Homo sapiens: one gene and its partners. The protein of the gene in region 1 purifies or fractionates together with the protein of each later gene. This does not show direct contact. Each region holds a gene or a part of one and is shown on either strand. Other genes may lie near its edges.

Region 1 (7,459 bases):
AGCTGCTTTCTCCATTATGATTGCTTGTTCCTCAGAAAAGGAGCTATTCCAAATGAGTCATGAAGGAAATGATCACACTGAAAGAAAACTGCCTGCTCTTGCCTCACACGTTTGGCTGGTGCTACCTCTAGGTTTAATCATGGTCTCTCAGAAATCCTTACACCACTGAATATATTACACTAACTCACTATCAGTCAGGTGTATGGACAACTGTGATAATCCCGTCTCTAACCATGGAAAGCAAACCAACCCATTAACAGAAGGATTTGTAGCCTTTATTTTTTTTTTTTTGGCATAGTACTGATTATTAAAGAGAAGATACTAGAAAGAATCCATTTCTTGGCTTAAGATTCTTAACTACTATTATTTTTCTTTCCTAATCACCTTTTGGGACCAAGCCACTTCAACATCTCATTTTCTTATCCCCACTAGTGAACATCCCCTACAACCTTCCTGTGAAACTAAGGAAAAAAACAAAGTGTTAAGGTATTAAGCCTCAATAAGTAACTTGGACAATTCCTCTCAAATCATTAGTGGACAATAATAAAAGCAAAAATGGATGATGCTTTTCCAGAAAAATTAACTGAAAGGCCTCAAAATTCTTCTAAACAAAATTAAAAAAATATTGTAACAAAATGCAACACAGCTTAATTGGTTTTACACCATTGCATATTACAAGTCAGTATTAACATCTTTCTTAAAGTGCCTTCATACCCATGCACAAAACTACTGGCTACCACCTTCAGGTAATGCTAAGGTGGGAGGACAAGCAAAACCTACCAGGTAATTACCAGGTTGATCCTTCAAGTGCCATTTTTATTCAAGGGCATGGCACAAGTAATGCTGCTCACATCCTGTGGTTCCACTAACGATACTAAAGAGGTAAACCAAGTACAGAAGACGCAGCAAGAACAAGTGATTTTTAGGTTTAAGTGGGAAATTCCTGGTCTGTATTAAGCCACAGAGGATATCCAAATAGATACTTGCAAGGAGTTATTCATGAGGGTGAGGGAGGGATAAGGATTCTAAACTAGTGACGAAAAGGTCAATGCTTTTAATTTACTGGCAGGAAAGGTATAGTTGAAGGGATCTAATAGAACAAATTTCCTAGCCAACTATATTTTAAGGGCAAAGAAGGGGGGAAACGGGCAGCAACATTGATGGACTATTTGCATGTACCAGAAACTATGCATAGGACTTTAATATGTGATTTAACTGACCATGAACCAAATCTCCAGTGAGATTCACAGCTTTTAAGAACTACGGTATAAGATAATCGATAAGGCTAACATGGAAAAGTTGTAGCATATTAATATTTTGGTATTATATATTCCTCTATCACTAAAGAGGTAGGTTTTAACCTCAATCATTCCTCTTTGCCATTACAAATAGAGATGACAAATTAGAGTATCAAACAAACCACTGTATTTAATTTACATGTCAAGTATGAGATCCTATCACTTATGCCAAGTCAGGTACTTTAATGTGTTTATAAAATCATTACTATGAAAAGTAAAAGAAATGGATAATGTCCAGCATTTTGACTTATAGAAAACTTGCCCTGAATCTGCAACTTCTGAAGGGAAAATACTGTCACCATTGCTAATCTCACTTGAAGCTTCCACAGATTTTTTTGTTCCAAAAGGGAAGAAAAGTGAAATTAAATTTTGAATAAAGTTCATAAAGAAATGTAAAACATTTCTATTTTTCTTTTCAGTTCCCTCAACCCAAACAGAAACAGCTTCCTGCAATGGCTTAAGTCCATGTGTACATTACTGAATCATGACGGCCACAATGTAATTTTATAGGGTTATAATCACAACAGAAAACTTACATTCAGCAGTTTGTGTCACCTACAATATAATCTAAAAGACAGAAAGAAGTATTTACCAAATTACCTGCTACTGCTGTTATTCTTTTTGGATTTGTTCCTCCGTTTTAAGGCATCTCTGTCCTTGTTATTGTATGGTAACATGGAGGCATAACCATGTTCAGCTTCTAGAAAACAGGAGGATCCAGTTAATGAATGGGCCCAGAATATTTAATGCTCTCTCCTCTCTACAGTATTTCCTTTTTCCTTTATTTATCTTTAAAAGAATATTGTGGAAATAATTAAATGGAGTAAGGTGGAATTCTGAGAACAATGATTTAAAAAAAAATTGTGTGAATATCGTCAATTCGGAGCAGGTGTAAGGAGGATTCCAGCTGCTCATTGTTGAGAAAGACACAGTAGTGGCTAGGCTCACGCAGCCTGGGTTTCCCACTGGCTACATCCAGCAGGTTGGTGCGGGTTAAGTGGAACCAGCTCAGGCGAAGGTGCGGGGCAAGCACCGTGAGCCGGGGACCGGGAGGCGCTGCTCCTCTGCCCAGGAGACTGGGGCGCCGGGCCCACCTGGGGGCCGGCCGGGACCAGCCCGGGTGAGGTAAACCAGGGAGGCTATCGGAGGGGGCCCCGGCCACCCACTCGTGAAGGGCTGGGGAAGGGGCGGCGTTCGGGACCCCGGCGGGCGGCAGCCCCTTCTCCACCCCATTCATTGCTTTGGGGCAGCGGCGGCTTCCCTTCGGACCGCGCGTGGGGAGAGCCAGAGGGGTTGGGAGCGCTCGCGGTCTCCCCGCCTCCAACCACCCCCGGAGCGGCTGGGCGCCCGGACCTGAGGCCGGCCCCACAGGACCCCCGGCCTCGTTTCGAGTGGACCCCTCCCCGTCCCCGTGCACCTCTCTCCCGCCGCTCCAGATAGTCGGCCGCCTCCAGCAGCATCTGGATGTTCATCCGAACCGCCGCCGCCATTCTGCACCGGGGGCCGGAGCCACGGGACCAACCCCCACTGCCCACGGGCTCGCTGCCGCCGCCGGACCGCTGTGGAGCCCGCTATGGAGCCCGCTGTGGAGCCCGCTGTGGACCCCGCGGAGCAGGGCTGAGGGAGCCTCTCTGGCAACCACGCTCGACAAGAGAGGGAGGGGGCCAGTGAGCTGGGCACCGCCGACACAGTGACAGAACCCGGAGCAGAGCAGCAGCCGCCACCGCCGCGGAGTGTTTATCCCCGACTCACCATCTCCCCGCCCCCAGCCCCTTCTCTTGACAGGCCAGCTTCGGCCGCGTTCCTCATTGGGCCCCCCAAAGAATGCCCCGCCCCTACACTTGTGCGATTGGGAGAGGGCTTCAGGGCTCCACCCCGCAAAGTCCGCTCCTCTCGCTGGTTGGTCACACTTGACAAGGCCCGGGCTCCACCCCCTCTTTCCAACTGGTGACAGGATTCGCAACTCCGCCTCGTGCTCCTTCCTTGTTTCCCATTGGTTCTATACCAACAACCCGGGCCCCCTTTTGCTTTGTTAGTATTGGCCAAGAGCTGCAGAAGGCAAGCACCTCGCCGGTCTCCCATTGGTGAAGCCTTCGGAAACCTCCCAGCTACGATGATGTCACCTTTCTCCAGGCCAGGCGAGCCCTAAGTGGCTGATGGTCAGCAGCCTGGCTGCTCCTCACCGGGTCTGGCATTGGCTGGGAGGGCCGGTCCGGCGCTGGGCGGCGCTGATTCACCAGCCGCTGCGGAGCTCTGCTCCACCCGGCCTTGCCTCGGACCTGTTGCCAAGACCTGTCCCCGGGGAAAACTTCCGGGGACCTGCCAGGCGTCCATCGAATGGAAGGCTGGCACCTCGTGTCGCCTGGGCGCTCTGCCCCGCTTGGGTTCGGGGCCGGAGCCCTCGGTCTGGTGGCCGCGGCCCTGGAGGTTCTGGGCTTCGCGGAACTCGGGCTGGCGAGGGCCCAGCCTCGAATCCTCCCGAAGAGCGGTGCAGGCTAGTGGCCGGTGAGCCGGGAGCTAGGGCAGGCGCCACGTGGCTGCTGCGGGGCTTGAGAAGAAAAGCCGGCCGTTGTTAAATGCTCGCCGCTCGGCGTTTTTTCTGCCCTCAAGAAAGAGCTGGAATCGGGCTGCAGTATACAGCATTGAGCTCATGCGCCTTTTCCGCACCCCCCTCCACCCCCGGGAAGTGATGGAATAATTAATTACTTTCACGCGAGCGGCTTTTTAAAGCTCAGAGACTTCCTGAACCTACAGAATGGCATTAAACCCTAAGATTCTTTGCTTAAATCTCTTTTGGGGTTTTCCCCTCCCTTTTAATTCTAGATGAAAACACTCACAAGATTATTGTTTTTGTTTGTTTGTTTTGAAAGGGAGTTTTGCTCTTGTCGCCCAGGCTGGAGTGCAATGGCGCGATCTCGGCTCACTGCAACCTCCTTCTCCCGGGTTCAAGCGATTCTCCTGCCTCAACCTTCTGAGTAGCTGGGATTACAGGTGCCCACCACCACGCCCGGCTAATTTTTGTATTTTTAGTAGAGACGGGGTTTCACCATGTTGGCCAGGCTGGTCTCGAACTCTTGACCTCAGGTGATCCACCCACCTCAGCCTCCCAAAGTGCTGGGATTACAGGCGTGAGCCACCGCACCCGGCCAAGAATACTCTTTAAGACGTCTGCAAATTGTGTGTTTCCGCATGGGGTGGTACCAATATAAATGCTTAATAGAATGTTACGTATACAGAACTAAAAAGGTTAAAGATCGGTCCCTAAACCTATTAAAATTTTTGAAATGAAAGCTATCTGGCAAACCAAGCTACACTGCCAATGTACTGACAGACATCTCCAATTTTAAAAGTAGAAATAAAGTTCTTGGTAGGTTGAGTCCCCAAAATACAAATGAGTAAAGCATGAACATATTTCTTTTTTTAAAAGTTTATTATTGTTGCCAATATATAATAGCTTACTATGTGTAGGTATCCTACCTACATTATCTCTAATCCTCAATATAACCCCATGAGGTAGGTTGTGTTAATTACATTTTGCACGTGAAGAAACTGAGGCCCAGGGAGGCTAAATGATTTTCCCTGTCATGCATTCAGCTGCAGACATGGAAACTGAACCTATGTATGTCTCACCCAGAGCCCAAATTACCAATCCTCCTGTTGGTAGTTGTATAAAGACAAGGTGGTTTAAACAGATTTCCAGACTGAGTCACAAAACACTGACAACTCAAGTACTGAAGAAAAAGAAAGACAAAGGTGTAAATGTAATTATGGTGGGAAATATTAAACATGTATTTTTTAATGTCCACAAACCCACTAAAATTAAATCAACTCAATAAATAGAATAAACATGTAGTAAATCATGCCTGACATATAGGCATATTCTGGTTTCAGTGGTTAACTGGATCTAAAAACTGATTCTTTATGAAAATACTAATGAAATACACATACTGAAGGTAAAGGTTTTCAAAGCACAATACAAAGTTGGAAATGAAGGTAGAAATATAACAGTTTTTTTTCTCCATATCAGACAGGTAATGTACTAACGCTGTAACAAGCTCTTTGGGAGGCACATCTCATACATGCAATGGGAACACCTAATTACTATGTTTATGAACTATAAAAGGATCTAAGTTTTAAAAGAGTATTTTTAAATTGGATGTTATTTGTAAAACAAACTTCAAAATCATAAACGAGTGCAATTCTACTAAAGTACCCAAAGTGATAATACTAAAAATGCTTTGATTTCATTATCCTGACATTTTGGATTTTGTATATATTTATATTTTCTCTTTAATTTTATTACAAACATTTGGCATATGTCTTTAGTCTCTTACTCTCAACTCTTTATTTTAACCAAGTCCTATTTCAGTATCATGACCCTTCCTCTACAATCACCCTGACCAGAAAGTCACACTTATTTTTGTCTTAAAAAGGGGGAAAAAAGGTTGAAATCTGAGCCAGAAACAGCAAATAATTTAAATGCCAACAAGTCTAGCTTAGACTCCAAACAAAAATACTACATTATATAAAAATTAGAGAATCAGCTGAAGAATAGACCATGTTCGTTCCTTGGTGGTGGATGAAATTATCAATTAGCCAGCAACACCAACTAGGGATTAGTATAATGAAGACCTTCAAAGGGTGTTTGGTGCCATCTACTGGAAATGAAGTAGTAAGTATAAAACAAAGGTTTTGAGATTCGGAGTTTTCCTAGAAATTATTTTACACAGATGTATGGAATGACCAGTTAATTAAGAAAACCTGAAAGTATAAGTTTTGAAGAAAGAACTGAGAATCCTAAGATAATGAAGAAGTGGTGACTTTCAATACCTAGTGCCTCAAAGGCATGGCCTAAGCATTGACTGACTGAGAGTCACAGCTCCAGAAATAGAAGCTGGGAATTCTAGAATGTTTGAACCAGAATTTTATGACCAGAACTTTAAATAAAAAGTTATGTGTAATAGCATAAACATGGGATGACAATAGTTTATATCTTTGAGCACATATCAAGATAAACTAATTGAGATATATACTTGAAAATGGGGAATTACAAAGACATAAAATATTAGACTTGTCAGATAATCTTTACTGCCAAGTTAATCTCTGCCCAGTCTCCTCTGGGAGGCTTATACTCCAGATGGGCATAGGACAGTATATTAAGAGGTAAATGCCAATACTGAGCAAGCAGCAGGCTCATCACACACTATGGAGTTCTCTGCCGGAGATGCCGCTTCAGAGAGCACCCCAGAGTGGCAGGGAAGAAAACTGTTACCGTATTATAATCCTGAAGTGCCTAAAAAGTTCTATCACTATGGGAATTAAAGCCCCCTATTTATAACTGAGTTTGATACCTCCTAACTACTATGACATTAAAATATATTTTGTCTTATAAGGTTTTGAGGAATTGATTTTGTTCCTCGAAGCAGATAAATCAGGATTTCAAGTTTCTGGTTCAACAGTATCATCTCTTTCTTTGTGGCTATTTTGGACACACTAATATGATACCTAACATCATAATATTAAATTTTAAAAACCTTTAAAAACACTGTTTTGCAAAAATTAGTCACTCTACAAATCTGTGATTTAGAAAATGAGGCAACAGCCAGGGGCCGTGGCTCATGCCTGTAATCTCAACACTTTGGGAGGCTGAAATGGGAGGATCACTTGAGCTCAGGAGTTTGAGACCAGACTGGGCAACATAGTGAGAACTCACCTCTACTCAAAAAATAAATTAGCTGGGTGTGGTGGTGCAGCCTGTAGTCCCAGCTACTTGGGAGGCTGAAGCAAGAGGACTGCTTGAGCCCAGGAAGTTGATGCTCCAGTGAGCATAATTGCACCACACAGCACTCCAGCCAGAGCAGGTAAACAAACAAACAAACAAAAAGGCAATGGCTAAATTGTCATATGTATATCACACAAAACACTATGCAGCAGCTTTTTAAAAGGTAGATTTATATATACTGTCAAGAAAAGATCCCTAAGGCACAGTGTTGAGTAAATAGATTGTAAAATAACCCTTACAGCATTTTCTTTTTAAAGGCCCAAACTATGTATTTTCCCAATTTCCTACTCTGCTATATACATACAGGCATGGACAAAAGATACAAAGCAAAGGATTAGCAGAAAGAATGGGCAATATCATTCTGAGTACTGTTCGAAAG
Region 2 (6,889 bases), on another chromosome or scaffold:
TGGTAAGTGCTTTGGAGAATCTTCTCAGTCCATCTACTGAGCTGGCCATCACCAGTTGTTGTATAAAATCCACTTTTTCTCGCACATCACAATCTGACCAAGAAATGGTTTGTTGTTGCAAAAAATAAGGGATAAGGACACTTCAAAACAATGACTTTTTTTTTCGGTCAGTTCATGAGGCACCCACTTATCGAGCTTTTTCACTTTTTAATTTGCTTCAAATGCTGAAGGACTGTAGAATGGTCCACATTGAGTTCTTCGGCAACATCTCAAGTAGCCTTAAGAGGATCAGCTTTGCTGATTGCTCTTAACCGGTAGTTATCAACTTCTGGCGACCAGCCACTACGCTCCTGATTTTCAAGACTTTCCTTCCCTTTGCAAAATTTCTTGAAACTGCCAGGCACAGCGGCTCAAGCCTGTAATCCCAGCACTTTGGGAGGCCAAGGCGGGCGGATCACGAGGTCAGGAGTTCGAGACCAGCCTGGGCCAAGATGGTGAAACTCCATCTCTACTAAAAATACAAAAATTAGCTGAGCATGGTGGTGCGTGCCTGTAATCCCAGCTACTGGGGAGGCTGAGGCAGAATGGCTTGAACCCAGGAGGCAGAGGTTGCAGTGAGCCAAGATCATGCCACTGCACTCTAGCCTGAAAGAGCAAGATTCCATCTCAAACAACAACAACAAAAAAACTTCTTGAATCACCACTGCACTGTAAGTTAACAGTTCCTGAACCATATGCATTGCTGATATGGTGTCTCTGTTGTTTTACAACCCATTTTTAACTCAAAAACGAAAACTGCTCGAATTTGCTTTTTTGTCTAACATCATTTTCATTGTCTAAAATACACATGAAGGCTGGGCACGTGGCTCATGCCCGTAATCCCACCACTTTACGAGGCCGAGGCAGGCAGATCATGAGGTCAGGAGATCGAGACCACCATGGCTAACATGGTGAAGCCCCTTGGCTCTATTAAAAATACAAAAAATTAGCTGGTGTGGTGGCACGCGCCTGTAGTCCCAGCTACTCGGGAGGCTGAGGCAGAAGAATTGCTTGAACCTGGGAGGCAGAGGTTGTAGTGAGCCGAGATGGTGCCACTGACTTCAGCCTGGCGACAGAGCGTGACTCTGTCTCAAAAATAAAATAAAATAAACATGAAATAAACAGAGAGTAATAAGTCATTACCAAAAGAACAAAGCGAGAAATGCCCATTAAAATGATGTATAACATAACCACATTTATTTAACAACGTAGTCCAACATCAAATGGCAAATTCCAATAATGCAAAAACCACGATTACTTTTGCAACGACCTTCTTAGACACAATATTTTGCAAAACATGTACAAGGATATTCACTGACATATTACTGCCATTATAGAAAAATAAACACGTTACATAAATTATGATATATTTATCCCACAAAACACTATGAAGACATAAAAGATGCTTTACGATAAGATATTTCCAATATTCCCAATGTTTTCTATAAAGAATAGACGGTAATGAACAACACTAGAATATTTGGTAAAACAAAACCAACAAAAAAGACAAAGCCTTTTGTATAATATATAACTATAGTGTAAACCGTAACTACCTTTTGGAGGAGGGAAGACATTTTTGTATTCTTCTTTGGGCTTTTTAATAATTTCCAAATGTCCATGCATTATTTGGATTCAATAATAACAGTTTAAACTTTGATCGTAGAATTATGGATGCTTACCCCCTAGAAAATTCAGTAATATATTGTTTTATAAGGTCTTTTAAAAAACTGCTTCACTCCTACGAGATTGCGCCACTGCACTCCAGCCTCGATGACAGAGAGAGACTCTGTCTCCAAAAAAAAAAAAAAAAAAAAAAAAAAAGCCTCACTCCTAAACACTCCCATTTACAAGATCTTTTCTATATAAGAACTTTTTAAATAGGCGGGTGGGGGGGAGGAAATCACAAAAATACGCATAATGTTTTATAACAAAAACATGAGGTATATCAAAGTCCAGAAATGAGAACCACGTAAATGGGTAAACAAGTCCATAAGGATGTCCTAATTTTGGGATTTCATTCTAAAATATTACACTAGAAAGCTAATTATACAGACTCATTTGAATCTGACCAAACAAAACATCTTTTAACTACCCTTCCTCCCATTCTGGTATTTCTTTACTAATCCATAGAAAGTTTTTCCAGGTAGTCCCCCGCAATTCTAAGGATTTTTAGACTTTATGACTCACCTCAGTAATCACTGAGATGTTCTGTTTTCTTCAGCACAACTGCCAAAAAACCCAGTAATTGTTAAGTCACACAATCATTTTCTAGTTATGGGCGCCACCAATATAGCAGTAGGGTTTAAAACAGAGGTATTGAGGGTAACTATTAGGATCTATCCAGTGTGACTAGGTCACTCACTAGAAATGCCAACATGCATTTCACGTTTTTATGAATACTTTTGAGCAAAATTACTGTTACGAATAAAAAACTGATTCTGCTCGGCTGTTTTCTTACTGAGAAAATTTAGTCCACGTGGATTACTGACGATATGTCACATTTTAAAAATTACTCCATTCTATAAAACTAGTCAATTTTATACTCCAATTCCGCTATTTAAAAATGTGTGTTTCGTTTAACAGAATATAAGATGTTAACAGAAAAAGATCAACGTCTATCTTATCGGGGACGTCCTTTTGTCTAAGATGTTTTCAGTCCCTGCAAAACCACTGTTTGCTTTCAAAAAGTAGCATAAGCCTCGTGCAGAGTGACAGACCCTTGTCTAAGGTCACAGAAGAAGCGTCTGCGCTGGCAAGTAAATTCCTCAGCATCCAGAAAGCCAGCGCTTTCTCCAGTTTCCTCATAGCTTTATCCCGTGAGGAGCACGCGGAAACCTCTACCCATGCAGGATGTTTCTAAGAACCACTTCTTCCCTGTCTTAACTAAGAAGGCTCCCACAGCTGGTGCCAATCAGGTGGAGAACATGGCAAGTCCCCGAAATGCACTTCCAAAGACAGGAAAGATTGCAGTGGGACAGAACCCAGAAAATCTCTCACATTCTCGAAAACCCGAAAGAGAACCTCCAAGAAAGACGTTTGCCTCTCCTCCACCTCTTTATCTCGGCGGGAGAGGAAGCCTCGCCCCCATTCATCCCGCCCCTTCTCCCCACCCCGCCGCAGGGAGAAGTTTACCATGGCTGCCTGCGGCCCCTTCACTTCCGGTGCCGGTGCCGCTAGGGCTGCGCCATCCCCCCAGTCAATCGGACAACCATAGCCTCCAACTGACCTTTCTGACAGCTCTGAGACTCCTCCGGCCACGACTAGGTGCTGTCCTGGAGGAAACGGTGGAGGACGGCCGCACAAAAACCAATCTACCTGATGAAAACTCCGTTCCCTTCTCGCCAGAAACATAAAATGCGATGGAGCTACGGCCACCGCTGCCGAGACAAAATGGCGCCGACAAGCTGGTTTAGCGCAAGCGCCTTGGACAGACCCTGCCCCGCCCCCGTGCAAGCCCCTGGCTGCAATTCTGGGTTCCGTTTCCATGGGACACTCCGCCGCCAATCCTCGTGTCGAACTGCTCTTCCTGACCCCTCAATTCACCAATCAGTGCCCAGTCAAGCACATCCGGAGTCGTCTCTACCAATCATTTCTCAGGACTTGCTTACTCAATAACCAACTCTCCAATAAAGTTGGTTTTCGGAAAAAGCCAATCATAAGTGGAAGATGTCCTACCTGCTGTTTTTCTCACCAATCCATGAAGTTTCACAGCTACATCCAATGAGGACGGCAGGTAGCGAGGTCCTATCCGAAGCTCTTCGGCGTCATGAGCAGCCAATAGGAGTTCGTGTAGAAGCGAGTCTGCTCAACAGCTTGTTATTTGGTGGATTGTGGCAGTAAATCGGGGCGAGTGGGGAACCCGGCGCAGGAACTGCAGCCGCGGCTGGGAGTGGTGCTGCCCGGACGGGGGCCCACGGAGGTCAGAGGGGAGGAGGACTCTGGAGCTGACAGCGCGCACTTCACCCGCAGTTGGTAGGTGGGGAGAGGGGAATCCGGGGATACTGAATGGACGAAGTGGCAGTAGCAGCAGCTGCTGCTGCCCGAGGTCCCGGTGCAGTTGGAAGCTTTGGAGGTGGGGAGAGGGATGCTAGGCAAGTGGCACGGCGAGCGCAAGGGAAGGGGCCAGCCATTGACCAGCGGCAGCAACTGCAGGAACCGCCGCCGCAGTTGCAGCCGCCTCCTCGTCCGCTTCCTCGGGTTCCCGGGAAAATGGCTGTGGGGCTGGCCGCGCCGCTAAGTTTGCTTCCGCGCGGTGAAGAGCGGGCTGCTTGGGGGAGCCGTCCCCCAACTCCGCGGCGCGTCCACCTCTGCGGAGTCCGTGGCAGGACTCGAGGGGCTACGAGCTGATACCTCTCTGGGCTGTACAAAAAGTTGAGGCGGGCGCTGGGAGGAGGCAGCGGCTGCTGCGGTGCGGCTCCCCTCCCCTCCCACACCCTGTCCGGGCCACCTCCCCTCCTCCTCCCCTCCGCCCCCCGCCCCCTCCCCCACGCGGGTCCCCCGGGGCTCTGGCGGCTCCCGGCTGAAGGCCGCGGCCCCTGCCCCTTTGGGTGAAGGAGCGCTTCTCCTTTCTGACATGGTGCAGAGCGAAGGAAGGAGAGCAATGGCGCCGTGACACTCCGCTGCCGCCACCGCGGGCCCGGGGCGGGCCGAGGGGGCCGAGCGGCGGAGGCGGGGCGCGGGCCGAAGTCGGGGTATCCGGGGGACCGCGGAGCGGAGGCTCGGCGGTCGTCTCCGCGGGGGACCTGGGGAAGCCCGAAGGGAGCTCTGGCCTTTTCCGGAGCTATCTGTCCTGGAGCTCCGAGTTGAGCATTCCGGGTCAAAGTGGCCAGCGAGGCGGGGGCGCGGTGGGCCGCTGGCGAGCTCCGGGGCGGAACGGGCTGCCCTTTGGCGCTCGTGGGGTTCTCGCTGCCCCCTCAGCTCCTGCGTCCTGGCTGCCCTCGTAAGGGGTCTTGTCCCTTGGCTGGTGAGGATTCTGCCCCTCCCCGCTGGCGTTTGTTTACTTTCTTTCCCTTGGTCGCTCCCCGCAGTTGACTGATTATGTCTGTGCCTGTCTTTCCCCCTCCCCATAGTTCTAGCGACTGCGAAGATAGCTCGCTGAGCTGGAACCCCACAGATCACCAACAAAAATGAAGGTAAGTGGAGTCAACTCTGCCCCGATCCTCGCGCCCTGAACACTGCCAATCCTAAGGCTAGTGCCGTGGAATGTCATTTGTTTTGCTACTCAAAATTGATGTTCCTACTGATCAGCAGTTTCGGCATAGGAGGATGTGTTGAATGGGTGAAAAATGATCTGTGTGTCTAAATGCGGAGTTTAGGCCCTCTCTGTAGCAGTACTTTGGAAAGGCTGGTGCAGCCTTTCAATTGTTGTCCATTCGGATAGTATTTTTAAACACTTCCTGTGTTGGCAGCAACCTTTGCAGAAGTAAAGCTTTTGTCCTGCTTTGGTTCTTTGGGGGATTTTTTGTAAATTTTTTTTCTTCCCGTGTGCCAATGCGATTTTCTAAAAGAAAGAATACGTGGATTAAGTAATGAAGGTATCATTTCTTCTGTGTGTAAAATGAACTTATGTGGCTAAAATATTTGAAGTTGAAGTATAATAATAGTTTTAGTTAAATCTTTCCAATAAGTATTTTAAAACATATACTAAAAAGATACATATTCTACTGAGGATGACTGCAAATATCAGTATGTGGATGGTTAAAGGGAAAGGATCTCATATAGCGTTCTTGAATGCTGTGGCCATTGAATGTTTCAGGTCAGATTTTTGTTTGCCAAAAGCATTCCTATTCAATTTGTATTTTTTGTAAATGCACTTACTTTAAAAGGTACCCAATTCCTGTCTTATTTACTGTTTCAGCATATTAAGCTCTGAAATATAGCATTTTCCCAAACTTTCTCGTGGTTTTCTATTTTCTCGAAGTAAATGACATATTTAACCTTCTTTAATATTACTTGGGAAAACTTATTAGAAAACAAAAAATCATTTTCTACTTCAAAACGTATCTCCAAAGTGTACACTGTTAACTTTGCACTTAACAATGTTAAGTTGAACTTGTATGGATACACTTTAACTTCCGGAAAAAAAAAAAAAAGGTAAAATGACAGATTGAGATAGCAATCATCCTGTTACTGTAAAAATTAAAATGAGTGGTAGAGTGACATTTCTTACATCTTTCTATGTATCATTCTGGTCGTGTCCATTTGCTGAAAGTAGATGTTTCTTAGTAACGCTTATTTTTTTATACTAAGAAGATTAGTGTGGTAAACTAGGTATACCTACAAGTCTGGAGCCATCAGTTCATATCTGCATTCATCGGCTGAATTCAGACTTAAAACCTTTCAAGTGCAGCTTTTAGCAAATGAATTTTCCAAATGATACTTTCCTTATGAAAAGATGTTACCTTTATGTGGCTATGTCAATAAACAATTATGTATTGTTAGTGTTAATATTAGTAGCAATATTTCTTTTAATTTGAAAAATTTCAGGAAGCTATAAATGAATAACTTAGTTTTATGATATGTGTAATATGAAATATTTTTTCTGTTTTTTTCTTATCTTTCTGCTTATATAATAGTAGAATTTTTGAAAAATTTTGTATCGAGACAAAACATTATTAATCACTGATAATTTTGAATTACAACTTTAAAACATTTTATCATATCAGGACATCAGTCTATAAAATGAAAGGTTGCTAATCAAGTATTTAGGGTATTTTTCAAATTTTCAATGATATTAATAAGCAAGTCATTTTAATATTCTTAATGCTTCAAACACAACCTTTTAATGAGACTTGAGGTTGGAGTAGGGAGGCATAGTAATGACATTCACAGTTTTATGTTCCTTTCACCA
Region 3 (7,024 bases), on another chromosome or scaffold:
AGAGCCTTTGCTACCACCCTCCTGCCCCAACCCCACTCCCAAAGGCCACTGAGCTCTGAAATTTCTGAAAACCAGTATGTACTTGAAAATGGTTAAGGAGAAAATGATTATTTATCTTGTAAGAGAGTCTAGCAGAGAACCTTTTTAAATAACAACACCAGAAATTCAATTCAGGCTGTTTAACTCATTTTATATAGACTTTGGCAGTGTTCTGTGATCTGTTAAAATACTAATATACCTCCAGTTGACATATTTCTGCTTTTTTTTTCCTGGAGAAAAGTGGAAGTTGAGAATAGTATAAAGGAAAATGCTGGAGTAGGAAAAGACATGTACTGGGGGGGCAGAAGGCCTGGGTGACCTTGGCCAGGTCATTTCCTCACTCTGGATGGCTTCATTTTACCCATTTAGAAAACGGATTGGGGTCAATGGGATTGCACTAGTGATTGCTAAGTTCTCTTACAGCTAGGATTCCGTTATTCTATTGTCCTGATCTGAAATCTCCCAGCCAAAGCTTTAGGAAGCCACCTATTCTCCCTGTTCTCCTATGAAGTTTGTTACTGTGAACTTGAGGAGCAGTTGATCTGAGTGGACTCGCCAGTCTAGCTAACATGGAGGGCTAGCTTCCTCTCAGGGATGCAGAGTGTGCTTTGTTGTGCTTTCTTCCTGGAGAAAAGCATGTCCAGTAGTATATACATCAGCTAGGTGGGATTCTTTGGGACAGTGGCATGTGCTGTGTTTGAAAGTCCTTTGACAGAGTTGAATCTGACAAAGCTATCCCAGTTTGTAACCATGTTAAGTGGTGGCTTTCATTAGCCTTAAGCCACTTTTAGATATAGGAGACTTCCTATATTGGTACATCAACATTTTTCGAGTACCTCCTGTCTGCAAGACACCATCACAGTATAAACTTAAAAGTACTTATGACTCACTAATCCAGCCACATGAAAGTGATCATTCATCTGAATAAATAAATAAACAGTTTTCATTATTTTCTCCATGAAAAGGTCTGAATTAATTGATGCGGATTTCCTGCCAGCTTACTTTTATCTTTAAGGATTTAAGGAATAAACTCAAATTCAGAAGTCTCTGCAGAACATTTGTGCAACAGCTGTTTCAGTATCAACAACCCCAAGTCATTTGCTGGGCATTCAGTTTCTGTAAAGTTTTTCAGTGGTTCCTCCAGCCAGCCTTGGAGGATTCTTCATGTCTTAGCTGTTGCTGCCACCTTCACTTACCAGTGTGCCTCCAGCCTGTATTAGAAAATCTGTAGTATCCACCTTCTTGTATGTGGTTCTACCTTGTAAGAACTTCCACATCTTTTTCCACTTTTCTTTGTGGATCAGATGTGAGATAATGCAAGAATTATAAATTGACACATAGAAACAAAGTTTTTCAAAGAGTTATTATCCTACAATAGTAGCTATTGTAATTGTAAAAATAGAGTGTCCCAAATACCGTTGCAACAGTCCCTTGTGTCCTGCTTTCCTCCTCCCCAGGACAGTACATTCCAGTCGACTATAAGTTTATGACTCCTACAGGTCTTCTAAAAATGTCACATCACTTCCTGCTTCCTTGAGGGACTCTGTCTTGTCGGAAGGAAAGTCTAAGCTGTTCTCATGCCCACCCCCCTGATGCCTCACTTTTTCATTATGCTCCTACATGGGCAGCCATCATCACCCAACTGACACTGTACCCTGGGCCTCCTCACTCTTTCTGTCATCCTCCATTGGAAACTCTAAAGTCTTGGCACTCCTACCCATCTGGAATGCTTCCTGTCTGCCTAAAGTCCTCCCTTTTAGTCAGGGCCCTTCACCCTGAGCATCTCTGTTGCAGGGATCTCTTCCTTTGCTGAATCTGTACCATTTACTGTCTTCACCATTCACTGGAAGTTTGGTGTATGATACGCTGCCAAGTGTGATGTTAGCATTCTCTTTGTGTTCTGCAACTCAGTAGTGAGCTTCTGGGAATGATGGCCTACATCTTGTCTTCCATCTATCTCTCCAATGCCCTGCAATGGAAGGAAGCCCCGCAATTCGACAGATACCTATTGCTGTCTCCAAGGAATTGGCCAACTCTGACTTTGATTTTTGTCTCCATCAGGTAAGGCACCTATATATCTGTGATTTTCACAAAAATTTCATCCAGAGTGTCCGAAATAAAAGGAAGAGGAAGACAAGTGACGATGGCGGAGATTCTCCCGAGCACGACACTGACATTCCTGAGGTAAAGGTCAAAGAAACCAGTTGCGGAAGCTGGAAGAATGGATTCTAATCTGATTCTCACCTCTGGCCTGGTCTGCTTTTTGTGTTAAGAAGTAATTTTAGTCCTTTTGTTTTGCTGTGGATTATTTGAAAAGTGAATTATAGTAATATGGAATCTGAGAGCTAAAAGCTTGGACACCCACTGGTCAGACTGCCCCATCATTTTACAGACAGGCACAGAGAGCCGAGGTCATGTATATAGTTTGGAGGCTCTAGTCTAGGGCCCTTTCCAGTAGACCACACTGCTTTTCTGCAAGACGCCCCTGACGAATGCGTAAATACAACCACAGTGTCACTTTTTTTTAAACCTTGTTTATGCCTTTAGAGAGTGTATAATGGTTTGGGAGAAGTCTTTTCCCCAAAAAATGAAGGTGTAAGTCATCAGTTCATACCAGCTCTGATTTTCTCTCACTGATTTCTTGACATCTAGTCCAGGCTGTTCCCAAGGATCCATTTCAAAGTTGACTAAACTGGACCCGGTTTTCTCAACTCTAGCACTGTTGACATTTGGGGTCAGCTAATTTTTGTTGTGGGGACTGTCCTCTGCATTGTAGGATATTTAACAGCATGCCTCAGCAGCATCCCCTCGTGAGATTCTACCCATCACCACCCTGAGTCATGACAATCAAAACGTGTCTCCAGACATTGCCACACCTCCTTTACAAGACAAAATCGTCCTGTGTTGAGAACCACTGCGCTAGACCATGAGACCTAGGCTTCTCAAACTGGAAGGCTGCCTTCCCTTCAGGTGCCCGTGTCTATTAAGTGAGGCTTCAGGAAGGAATATTGGATTTTCTTTCTACTAAATTGTTTTCACTCAAGACTCAGCAAGAGAAGAACCGTTTATAGTGTACATTGAATATTTGACACATGAATATTTCATAAGGCAACCGCCTGTTAGCACTCAGAGTGAAAATGACTGTGTAGGAATAGAAAGAGTAGGCGGGCCTTTGTCTGCAGATGTGGAGGAAACCGTTGAAAATCTGGCCCTTTCCCTCTGCCCCTCCCTGTGTCCCCTTTTCCAATGTTGGTTTACAGAATCTTGCTTTTGCCTTTAACGTTATTGTTATTTTACAAAGAAATGGACGTATTCGATTTCTAAGTGGTTTTCACCAAAAAAAAAAAAAAAAAGGTTTTGAGGAATGTTTTGAAAAAGAATGAAGGACTTTGGCCCCTCATATTGATCATTCATTTTGTTTTTAAGTGCTCTCCACCTGCCTGAAGCAAGAACAGCTCTTTTAGAGGCAGGTAAAGGCAGCCCAACTTTATGGGCCTTCAATTTTTCATGACTATGCAGCTTTCCTCTCTTCCTTTGTTAGAAACAAAAAGGGGGGGTCCCTTCCCCTCTGTTATCCAGTCATCTGCAAAGACCCCAGCCCTAACCTGCTGGATTGCACATTCACTACAGTAACTTTTGAACTTTCTCTGGAGGGAGGTTAAGGATTCTAATACCAGAAGGCTGGGCCTAGCAAAGAGCTATTTGAGGATAACAGCCCTCCTTTGTGCTCCTCTATCCGGTCGCTGCCTCGTTCTGGCCTATCATCCTCCAGGATGTCTCTGGTTTTTGCCTTTGCTCTCCATCTTTGGTGTCCCTTCTAGCATCACTGCCCCTCCAAAGCTCAGCCTCTTCATCTCATTCTGATTGTTGCTATAGCATCTCCCTCCGTATCCCCCCATCAGTCTTCCCAACAACCACCACCAGACCCATCCTGCGCCATCGCCCTCCACCCTCTGTGATAGCTCCTTCTGTTTTTCTGGATGTGCTACCATCCATTCTCACCTTTTAAATTCATCACAGTTGCCTGTGACCCCCTTGCCCATCTGTGCCTCTCCCAGCTCTCTGTGCTGTGATCTTTTCCCCTATTCCCTACCGTTTCTCAGTGCTTTATCAGACCCTGCTCCTCCTTAGCTTAAGCTTTACCTTTTCCACCAGTTTTGTGAGATCAGCCCACCCCAGCCAGAACTGTTTTTCTACTGTTATTTTTGCCCTCCTAGCCAGTTACTAGTCCTCAATAGACCATTTCTAAGACCTCTTTTGAAGCCCTCCCCATCCTCACCCCTACCTTAGTGTAGTGCTAGGCACATAGTGGGCTCTTGGTGAGTCCTGGGTGGTCAGGTGATGGATAACATTTTTCTCCTCTTCTCCCTAGGTTGATCTGTTCCAGCTGCAGGTGAACACCCTACGACGTTATAAACGACACTACAAGTTGCAGACCAGACCAGGCTTCAATAAGGCCCAGTTAGCAGAAGTAGGTAGACAAAATTGCCCTCTAAAGAGAGCCAGCATTGTGCTGCTTCTGATGGTTACCCTGATTCTCCCTTACCTTGTGTGTCTGCTAATTGTAATTTCCTCCAGAGTTCTGGAAGCAACTCTGTATTCCTCTTTGGCAATTTAGAACCCCACAGCTTTAGACCTGCAAAGGCCTCAGTTCCAGAAAAGAAACCATGGCACAGAAAGAGGAAAGGATTTGCTTAAAATCACACAGCAAGTTGATAGCAGAATTGAGCCTGGGATCTCATGACTCCAGATTCTAAGTCCTGAGTGTTCATTTGTTTGAATCTTTTTTGGAAGATTCCTCTTTTTGTTTTTTTGGAGACAAGATTTTGCTTTATCACCCAGGCTAGAGTGCAGTGGCTCAGTCTGGGCTGACTGCAGCCCCAACCTCCCAGCTTCAAGTGATCCTTCCCACCTCAGCCTCCAGAGTAGCTAGGACCACAGGTGCACACCCCTATGCACAGCTAATTTTATTTTTATAGAGATGCAGCCTCACTATGTTGCTCAAGTGATTCTCTTTGGCTCAAGCCATCCTTCCACCTCAGCCTCCCAAAGTGCTGAGATTACAGGCGTGAGCCACTGTGCCTGGCTTAGCAAAATGCTTTTTAGATATGATCATTTTGTGTGTCAGATTAATCATTTCAAAACCTTGATGTTCTACAGGAGCTATTTTTTTTTCCTTGATTTCTCCTACTCTGGTGTTGGTAATGACAGTATTTTAATGAATGGCACCCAAGAAAGTTTTCTCCTGCCCTGAGTTATTAACACAGTTTGGATTACGGGGAAATGCTCCACTGGCCATTTTTAAAATACATGAACTGCCTGGCTTGATAATTCTGTCTTTGTCATTTCTGCAGGTATTTTCTAATCCCTCTTTTCTTAATATATTTTTCTGCCTATTACAGAAAAGTTGGAAAATGGAGAAAAGAAAAATATAATTCTATCATCCAGAGATAACCACTCTTTATGTCTAGTTCTCTGTCTTTTTTTATCTGTTTCAGCCACCTTGATCCATTGAGATTTCCTGAAAGGCTTCCAGCCTGTTTCATTTTTGGTTTTTCCTTTAGAGGTTTCTTGCTCGACCGTCACTTTTTCTTAAACAACTCCTTCACCAGTGTCCAGATGACACACAGGAGGTCAGAAGCCTCTCCTACTTTAAAATAACATCACCCATTTGCCAGTGTTCTCCCTGGTGGAAGGGAAAGAATGAGGTGGGGCAAGAGGAGACCTGCATTCTCATTACTTATGGAATGAAGTATTAGGAGCATTAGTAAATGATGCATTTTCCTTCAAACCTGATATGTCTTTCAGGAGGCAGTTATGCACTACTTAGAAGAATTTTGGGGTTCAGATGCCTCTGTTCAATTTGTTCAATTGGCTGTTCATTTAACACAATTTTTTTTTTTTTTTAAAGACAGAGTCTTGCTCTATCTCCCAGGCTGGAGTGCATTGCTATGATCTCAGCTCACCACAGCCTCCACCTCCCGGGTTCAAGTGATTCTTCTCCATGTTTCCCGAGTGGCTGGGATTACAGGTGCCTGTCACCACACCCGGCTAATCTTTGTATTTTTAGTAGAGGCTGGGTTTCACCATGTTGGCCAGGCTGGTCTCGGACTCCTGACTTCAGGTGATCTGCCTGCCTTGGCCTCCCAAAGTGCTAGGATTACAGGTGTGAGCCACCATCCCCAGCCTAACCCAATTTTTATTTGTTTTTGAGACAAGGTCTTGCTCTGTCTCCTAGGCTGGGGTGCAGTCACAGCTCACTGCAGCTTCAACCTCCTGGGCTCAAGTGATCCTCCCACCTCAGCCTCCTGAGTAGCTGGGACCACAGGTGCATGCTACGACACCTGGCTAATTTTTTGGTAGAGATGAGTTCTCCACTGTGTTGCCTAGGCTGGTCTCGAACTCCTGGCCTCAACTAATCCTCCCACCTTAACCTCCCAAAGCATTGGGATTATAGGTGTGAGCCACCACGCCTGCCCCACAATTTTTTAAAGACACATTTCTTCCCACTTTCAAGGCCTGAGAGGTTTGGTAGCAGCTGGCCAACCAGAGCAGTCCCAGTCTCTCCTCCATGAGTATGACTGTGAAATCATGCCATGACAGGTGGTTGGCTGCCACTGAAATAGAACTGCACCTTGGAAGAGTTGTAGGTTAAAAAGCCACTTTTGGATCCTGGAAATTAAACCACCTACATCCCTGGGGAGGAAGGGCAAAGGGCACTCTGAGTTCCGCACATGGCAGGAAGTTCTTCAGCATTTGTCATTCCCGCCACAGCATGCAAACAACTCCATTCGCTTCTTTGTACAATGTAGAATTTGCGGTGTGATTTGTGCATGGTTTAAGGAACTTTGGTATTTTCCCCCCACATAGACTGTGAGTCGACACTTCAGGAACATACCTGTGAATGAAAAAGAGACCCTTGCCTACTTCATCTACATGGTGAAGAGTAACAAGAGTAGACTGGACCAGAAATCGGAGGGTGGCA
Region 4 (7,553 bases), on another chromosome or scaffold:
ATTATAGGGGGAGAATTTTAACAAATAGAATTTTATGAGATCCTTGCTCCTATCATAAATGCAAGAACATCTGAAGACAAAATACTTTATAGATCTAAGAAACATATTCACCAACAGGCCAGGTGCAGTGGCTCCCGCCTGTAATCCCAGCACTTTGGGAGGCAGAGTCGGGTGGATCACTTGAAGTCAGGAGTTCAAGACCAGCCTGGCCAACGTGGCAAAACCCCATCTCTACTAAAAACACAAAAATTAGCCGGGTGTGTTGGAGGATGCCTGTAATCCCAGCTACTCAGGAGGCTGAGGCTGGAGAATCTAATCCAGGAGGCAGAGGTTGCAGCGAGCCAAGATCGTGCCACTGCACTCCAGCCTGGGTGACAGAGCAAGACTGTCTCAAAAAAAAGAAAAAAAAAAAAGAAATATATTCCCATACAGTCTCCTTTCTCTATATTCCCCGCTTTTGAAATCTCACCTACTTTCATGGCAAGGCAGATGACTTACAAATTATTCTCCCCTTCCCATATCGGGCAGGTTCCAATGTCACATTTCCATTTGTCAGTTGGGCAATCTTAAGCATACTGCCATCACTCCAAAAGCAACACGTCGGCCAGGCACGGTGGCTCACACCTATAATCCTAACACTTGGGGAGGCCGAGGCAGGCAGATCACCTGAGGTCAGGAGTTCAAGACCATCCTGGCCAACATGGTGAAACACAAAAATTATCTGAGCGTGGCGGCGCATGCCTGTAATCCCAGCTACTCGGGAGGCTGAGGCAGGAGAATTGCTTGTACCCTGGAGGTGGAGGTTGCAGTGAGCCAAGATGATGCCATTGCACTCCAGCCTGGGTGCCAAGAGCAAAACTCCTTCTCAAAAAAAAAAAAAAAAAAAGGCTGGGAATGGTAGCTCATGCCTGTAATCCCAGCACATTGGGAGGTTGAAGTGGGTGGATCACGAGGTCAGGAGTTCGAGACCAGCCTGGACAACATGGAGAAACCCTGTCTCTACTAAAAATACAAAAAATTAGCTTGGTGTGGTGGCACCCGCCTATAATCACAGCTACTCGGGAGGCTAAGGCAGGAGAATTGCTTGAACCCAGGAGGCGGAGGTTGCAGTGAGCCAAGATCACGCCATTACACTCCAGCCTGGGCAACAGAGCGAGACTCCATCTCAAAGAGAGAAAAGAAAAAAAAAAGCAACATGTCTGAAATACTCTTTTCTTTCACCTTCATCTCAAATCTTTCACTTTTCTATTTCTGTTGATGCTACCGCCACTCTCCTTGTATCTTGGTTTTTCTCTTACCTTCAATCCTAAACTTGCATTCATCAATCCTGTTTTGTGCTTTCTTTGAAATCACTCACATCTATACTTTCCTGTTCTTTTCCGAGCTCAACTCCTTCTCCCAAGGTTTTCACGCTCTTTTGAATAAGCCCCAAACTCTGGCCCTTGTACTTTTTCTTACATCCCTCTCCCTGCAGGGATACCCACCACCCCAAACCAAATTCTACTCATTCTTCAAGATAATTAAGGTAATCCCACCTTCTTCAGCTAGGCTTTGTGACCACCCAATATTGAAACGATTTCCTCTGCCTCTGAATTCCTACAGCAACATTTAGTTAAGCATTCATTTGGCAATTTAATCAAGTGGTGACTTATGATAGCTTTTTAAGTGAGCCCAGATAATAACTATTTATCCCTCATATTGAGTACTGTCCAGTGCTGCACAAAGAAGTCACTCATAAATATTTTTGGATGGCTGATTTACTGATTGAAATTATATCCTTCCATGGAGATTTGCTTTGCAAGGGAAACATGAAAAGAGGGCATCTGGGTGATACTAGGCTGTCATCAACCTATCATCAATGCTTCCTTTACATGACCAAAATCAGGCCAAGACAAAGAAGTCAGTCTCATCTCCATCATTTGAATCGAAAGAAAATAATCCCGGTAATCACAAATTCCATTTCACTTTAGAATAACCATTCCTAAAAGTTTGCAAAATTTATTTGTAGTGTTAATCTGCCCTCCTCCCCCACCCAAAATAATTTAAAACAGCCCAAAGTTAGAAAAAACTGAAGGGAAGAAAAGACTTGGAGAATTTTCAACGCTGCCAAAACTCAGCCAATTTATAAGCATATGAAGATCCAAAATGAGCCCGAATGTTGGTCCCTTCCTCTCAGTCTTGCAAACTTCAGGGAGCTACTGAACGGGACCGCTCTCAAGTTAGCCCCCGAAAAGACACTGATGTAAAAGTGCTGACCGGCAAGTTGACTTGCAAACTGAGGTTAATTACTAAGCCGACCCTCTGTCCCGGCAACTCACTTGCGCTGAGAAGTGAGGGTTGCAAAGGTGAAAATAGGGAAAGAGGTCGGTGGGCTGGGGAGAGGAGGCATTTCCAGTTTGTCTGCTGCGGGAAGTTGTCCGCCTGGGCTGGTCGCTCCAGAGCACCACCGGGGGCAGGACCACGCCGCGTTTGGGAGCTGGACAAGCCCAGGCCCGCCCCGCCCCGCCGCCGGGACCCATCAGGAGCCAGACAGCGCCCAGCGACCGGTCAGGGTGCAGCCCAGGGCCCAGAGCCAGTCTCCGCCCCTTCCCTCTGTCCCCGCCCCGCTTTCCCAGCAGGACGCAGCCGCCTGGCGTGCGGAGAGCGGCCTGTCGCGCGCTGGGCGCGGGGACTCAGGGTCCCAGCAGTGGGTCGCGCACCTGAGCTATCTCCATCCTCGGAGACCGACGAGCTCTCAGTGTCCTCGTCCTCGGAGCTGCTCCCCTCATTTTCGGCGTAGTCCACCTCCATCTCATCGTGATGGTTGGTCTCCTTCTTATCCCCTCGGGAATGGACTGGCATTTTCCAGCCGCGCCGTCGCTTTCCACTACCGGCGCCCAGCCCGGCCACCGCCGCTTCAATGAAGGGCGCGCGGAACGCCCCAACCCACCCAGCCACCGAGCTTGCTCGCCCCCTTGGCTCCTCCCCGCCCCCGGCCCGGGCCTCACAACCTAACCCGCAGGCTCTGCGATGGGAGCTCTGCCATTGGCGGAGGCCTTCCACCGAGCCAGAGGGCGGGGGCTTGCCCTGCTCTGGTACGATTGGTTGCCCGCAATTACGACGCGGCCTTCCGATGCTTGCCGGGAGTTGTAGTTCGTAGGTCTCAGACCTGCAGGGGCTGCACGCTTCCATCCCTCGGCAGCCCTGATCACTTCTTCCTTCTGGACTTCAAGTCCCACAAGGCACGAAAGCTGACACTCTGGATCGCAGTTTATAAACTAAACAGAAACAGATTGTGCGAATTTAGTCTGTATTTATCTATTTCCCGCCAAGTGATTGTTTGACCTGCCTGACCATCAGAGATGTTACTGTTAGATGTGAAAATGTCTTTTGCCTAAAAGGATCTTTGCCTGCTCATTGAGCCTGGGGAACTGGAGAACCATCTGTTTTACTAAGCACCTTTATTACCTACCATTAATAAACTGTTTTATTTAATTATTAACTATAGACGATAACTTGCACTTTCTGTGTTGTGCAAAAATCTTTAAATTATTCTTGAAACTTTTACAATACAGAAGGTAAGGAAGTTTTATCTTGGCATTTTCAATCTAATATTTTTGGCATTTATTTTTTACCAAATGCAGTCGGAAAATGCCATCAGTCCTGATTTAACTTTAGTTTTCAATGAAAAATACATACTTAACCAGATGTACTTTCTCAAAAAAAGGGTACATAGCTCCCTCTCCCTCTCCCTCGCCCTCGCCCTCGCCCTCGCCCTCTCCACGGTCTCCCTCTCCCTCTCTTTCCACGGTCTCCCACTGATGCCGAGCCGAAGCTGGACTGTACTGCTGCCATCTCGGCTCACTGCAACCTCCCTGCCTGATTCTCCTGCCTCAGCCTGCCGAGTGCCTGCGATTGCAGGCGCGTGCCGCCACGCCTGACTGGTTTTCGTATTTTTTTGGTGGAGACGGTTTCGCTGTGTTGGCCGGGCTGGTCTCCAGCTCCTAACCGCGAATGATCCGCCAGCCCCGACCTCCCGAGGTGCCGGGATTGCAGACGGAGTCTCGTTCACTCAGTGCTCAATGGTGCCCAGGCTGGAGTGCAGTGGCGTGATCTCGGCTCGCTACAACCACCTCCCAGCCGCCTGCCTTGGCCTCCCAAAGAGCCGAGATTGCAGCCTCTGCCCGGCCGCCACCCCGTCTGGGAAGTGAGGAGCGTCTCTGCCTGGCCGCCCATCGTCTGGGATGTGAGGAGCCCCTCTACCTGGCTGCCCAGTCTGGAAAGTGAGGAGCGTCTCTGCCCGGCCGCCATCCCATCTAGGAAGTGAGGAGCGTCTCTGCCTGGCAGCCCATCGTCTGGGATGTGGGGAGCACCTCTGCCCCGCCGCCCCGTCTGGGATGTGAGGAGCGCCTCTGCCCAGCCGCGACCCCGTCTGGGAGGTGAGGAGCGTCTCTGCCCGGCCACCCCGTCTGAGAAGTGAGGAGACCCTCTGCCCGGCAACCGCCCCGTCTGAGAAGTGAGGAGCCCCTCCGCCCGGCAGCCGCCCCGTCTGAGAAGTGAGGAGCCCCTCCGTCCGGCAGCCACCCCGTCTGGGAAGTGAAGAGCGTCTCCGCCCGGCAGCCACCCCGTCCGGGAGGGAGGTGGGGGTCAGCCCCCGCCAGGCCAGCCTCCCGGACGGGAGGGAGGTGGGGGGGTCAGCGCCCCGCCCGGCCAGCCGCCCCTTCCGGGAGGGAGGTGGGGGGGTCAGCGCCCCGCCCGGCCAGCCGCCCCTTCTGGGAGGGAGGTTGGGGGTCAGCCCCCTGCCCGGCCAGCCGCCCCGCCCGGGAGGTGAGGGGCGCCTCTGCCCGGCCGCCCCTACTGGGAAGTGAGGAGCCCCTCTGCCCGGCCACCACCCCGTCTGGGAGGTGTGCCCAACAGCTCATTGAGAACGGGCCAGGATGACAATGGCGGCTTTGTGGAATAGAAAGGCGGGAAAGGTGGGGAAAAGATTGAGAAATCGGATGGTTGCCGTGTCTGTGTAGAAAGAAGTAGACATGGGAGACTTGTCATTTTGTTCTGTACTAAGAAAACTTCTTCTGCCTTGGGATCCTGTTGATCTGTGACCTTACCCCCAACCCTGTGCTCTCTGAAACATGTGCTGTGTCCACTCAGGGTTAAATGGATTAAGGTCGGTGCAAGATGTGCTTTGTTAAACAGATGCTTGAAGGCAGCATGCTCGTTAAGAGTCATCACCACTCCCTAATCTCAGGTACCCAGGGACACAAACACTGCGGAAGGCCGCAGGGTCCTCTGCCTAGGAAAACCAGAGACCTTTGTTCACTTGTTTATCTGCTGACCTTCCCTCCACTATTGTCCTATGACCCTGCCAAATCCCCCTCTGCGAGAAACACCCAAGAATGATCAATAAAAATAAATAAATAAATAAATAAATAAATAAAGGGTACATAGACAAGGAAGCCTCAATAGGTATCATAACTCATTAAGTGACCATTTATCCTCTGTATCAGGTATCTTGGTAAGCCCTTTACATGGGTTTAGTGAGTTTAATTCTCAATTTAATAGCCCTGAGTTAGGTGCCATTGTTATTCCCATTTTACGGATAAGGAAACTTCATTTGCAGACCAATCTTAAAACTATATTTTACCCCTTATAACGACAGGGTTTCTTCTTCTTGAAGTGGCAATTTGCTATTGAAAGATAGTACAGGCCGGCAGGGTGGCTAACGCCTGTAGTCCCCACACTTTAGGAGGCCGAGGCGAGTGGATCACTTGAGGTCAGGAGTTCAAGACCAGCCTGGCCAATATGGTGAAACCCAATCTCCAGAGGCTGAGGTGAGAGAATTGCTTGAACTTGAGAGGTCAAGATTGCAGTGAGCCGACATTGCACCACTGCACTCCAGCCTGGGTGACAGAGTGAGACCCTGTCTCCTGTCTCAAAGAGAAAAAAAAAAAAGTTCATAGAATATTGTGGATTGTATAGCATTGCATTCTCAAAGACAAGGTCCAAAAATATGCAGTTAAATTTGCAATTTTATTTAATTATCTATCTATTTAGAGACAAGATCTCGTTCTATCGCCCAAGCTGGAGTGCAATAGCAACCTCAAACTTCTGGGCACAAGCGATCATCTCGCCTCAGCCTTCCAAACACCTGAGACCACAGGCACATGCCACCATGCCCAGCTAATATTTTCGTTTTTTTTTAGTGACAGGGTCTAGCCCAGGCTGGTCTCGAACTCTAGTCTCAAGCAATCTGTCCACCTAAGCCTCCCAAAAGCACTGAGATTCCCAGATGTGAGCCACTGTACCCAACCTAGATTTGTAATTTAATGACAGAAAACCTTTTAAGTGCTACCTATCTCTTACAGAGTAAAATACAAAATAAGGGATGTGTATTATATTTAGTGTCAGCCTACTTCTCCCTTTCTCATTTTACAGTATTGTCCAAAATTGAACTCCTTACAGTTTCTAAACACACAAGCTGTTTCCCATTTCAGTGTCTTTGCACATTCTATTTCCTTTACAACCCTGTTCCTCTCCTTTTCTTTTTCAAAGCCACTTTTTAGACAACACATATCACCGTCAGCACCTCTACCATTCAGGGCACTCCTGTTCCTTCAGTTGACTGCTGTATTTTGAAATTTGCAAGTTTATACTTGTTCCTATGACAATATATTGTAAACTGTTTAGCAAATGCGTCTCACCTATTGGATTATGAGTTCCTTGAGAGCAGAGGTTGTCTTAAGCTGAAATGCAAGTGCAAAGGCATGCAGTAGTCAGGCAGGTCAAGTTAAAAGATGTAAGCTTTACATGAGTGGTACGGATTAAAGGGGGCAGCTGCATTTGGCCCCAGCCAATTGTTACTACCTGAGAATTTTGGCCTACCGATGTCAGACCTTCTGATTTCAAAGAGAAACCGGAAATTTGGATCTCTATGTGAAATATCTAGAACTATAAACATTATCTCAAGTGATGTTTTTTGTTTTGTTTTGTTTGTGTTCTTTAAACTTCAGATCAAACAAAAACAGCTGTGGGTAAAATCCCTGGCCTCTAAATATCAGCAGCTATCAGAGTGTGTGCTAAATCGTAACAATTAGATTTCTGGTCACTCAATGTGCCAAGTGTGTTATGTGCTTTAAGTACATTAATTCACTGAATCCTCATAACAATCCTATGAAGTCGATACTATTATGCCCTCCATTTTATAGATGAAAAAACCGAGGCACAGAGCAGTTAGAGTACTTGGCCAAAGTCACATAGCTACTACGTAACAGATCTAAGATTTGAACTTGGGTAGTCTGACATAAAAATCTGTGTGCAACCACTGGCATACAGTGCGCCTCTAGTGGTTGCTTTCTGTTTCTGCTGTTCCAGGAAAAACAGGAAAGGTGGAAAGGAGGAGGCATGGGTTCTAGCCTTGTTCTCCTAGTAACCAACTGATAAAATTTGGCAAACCACATAATCTCTGATCCGTTGTAAAATAAGAAGTTTGCAGTGTGTTAACTTTAAATTCTCTTCCAGCTCTAAAATTCCTGTCATCATTAAGTTTAATTTTAAGGCAGACAGAATAATAGGAG

What was found.
Region 2: the proteins of MXD1 (region 1) and ARID4A purify together in Homo sapiens (affinity purification with mass spectrometry; 3 studies listed by BioGRID and IntAct, with this or other methods). This does not show direct contact.
Region 3: the proteins of MXD1 (region 1) and SAP30L purify together in Homo sapiens (affinity purification with mass spectrometry; 3 studies listed by BioGRID and IntAct, with this or other methods). This does not show direct contact.
Region 4: the proteins of MXD1 (region 1) and BRMS1L purify together in Homo sapiens (affinity purification with mass spectrometry; 3 studies listed by BioGRID and IntAct, with this or other methods). This does not show direct contact.

The regions. Positions count from the first base shown.
Region 1 is NC_000002.12:69,910,660-69,918,118, reverse strand, and holds the start of MXD1 (max dimerization protein 1), read right to left. Parts: upstream 3,011-7,459; 5' UTR 2,789-3,010; coding exon 2,716-2,788; intron 1,999-2,715; coding exon 1,899-1,998; intron 1-1,898. UniProt on the Homo sapiens protein: Component of a transcriptional repressor complex together with MAX. In complex with MAX binds to the core DNA sequence 5'-CAC[GA]TG-3'. Antagonizes MYC transcriptional activity by competing with MYC for MAX binding.
Region 2 is NC_000014.9:58,294,690-58,301,578, forward strand, and holds the start of ARID4A (AT-rich interactive domain-containing protein 4A), read left to right. Parts: upstream 1-3,865; 5' UTR 3,866-4,011; intron 4,012-4,501; exon of another isoform or gene 4,502-5,002; intron 5,003-5,108; 5' UTR 5,109-5,165; coding exon 5,166-5,171; intron 5,172-6,889.
Region 3 is NC_000005.10:154,448,991-154,456,014, forward strand, and holds part of SAP30L (histone deacetylase complex subunit SAP30L), read left to right. Parts: intron 1-2,100; coding exon 2,101-2,223; intron 2,224-3,465; coding exon of another isoform or gene 3,466-3,483; exon of another isoform or gene 3,484-3,509; intron 3,510-4,411; coding exon 4,412-4,510; intron 4,511-6,909; coding exon 6,910-7,024.
Region 4 is NC_000014.9:35,821,805-35,829,357, reverse strand, and holds the start of BRMS1L (breast cancer metastasis-suppressor 1-like protein), read right to left. Parts: upstream 3,021-7,553; 5' UTR 2,842-3,020; coding exon 2,700-2,841; intron 2,484-2,699; exon of another isoform or gene 2,319-2,483; intron 1-2,318. UniProt on the Homo sapiens protein: Involved in the histone deacetylase (HDAC1)-dependent transcriptional repression activity. When overexpressed in lung cancer cell line that lacks p53/TP53 expression, inhibits cell growth.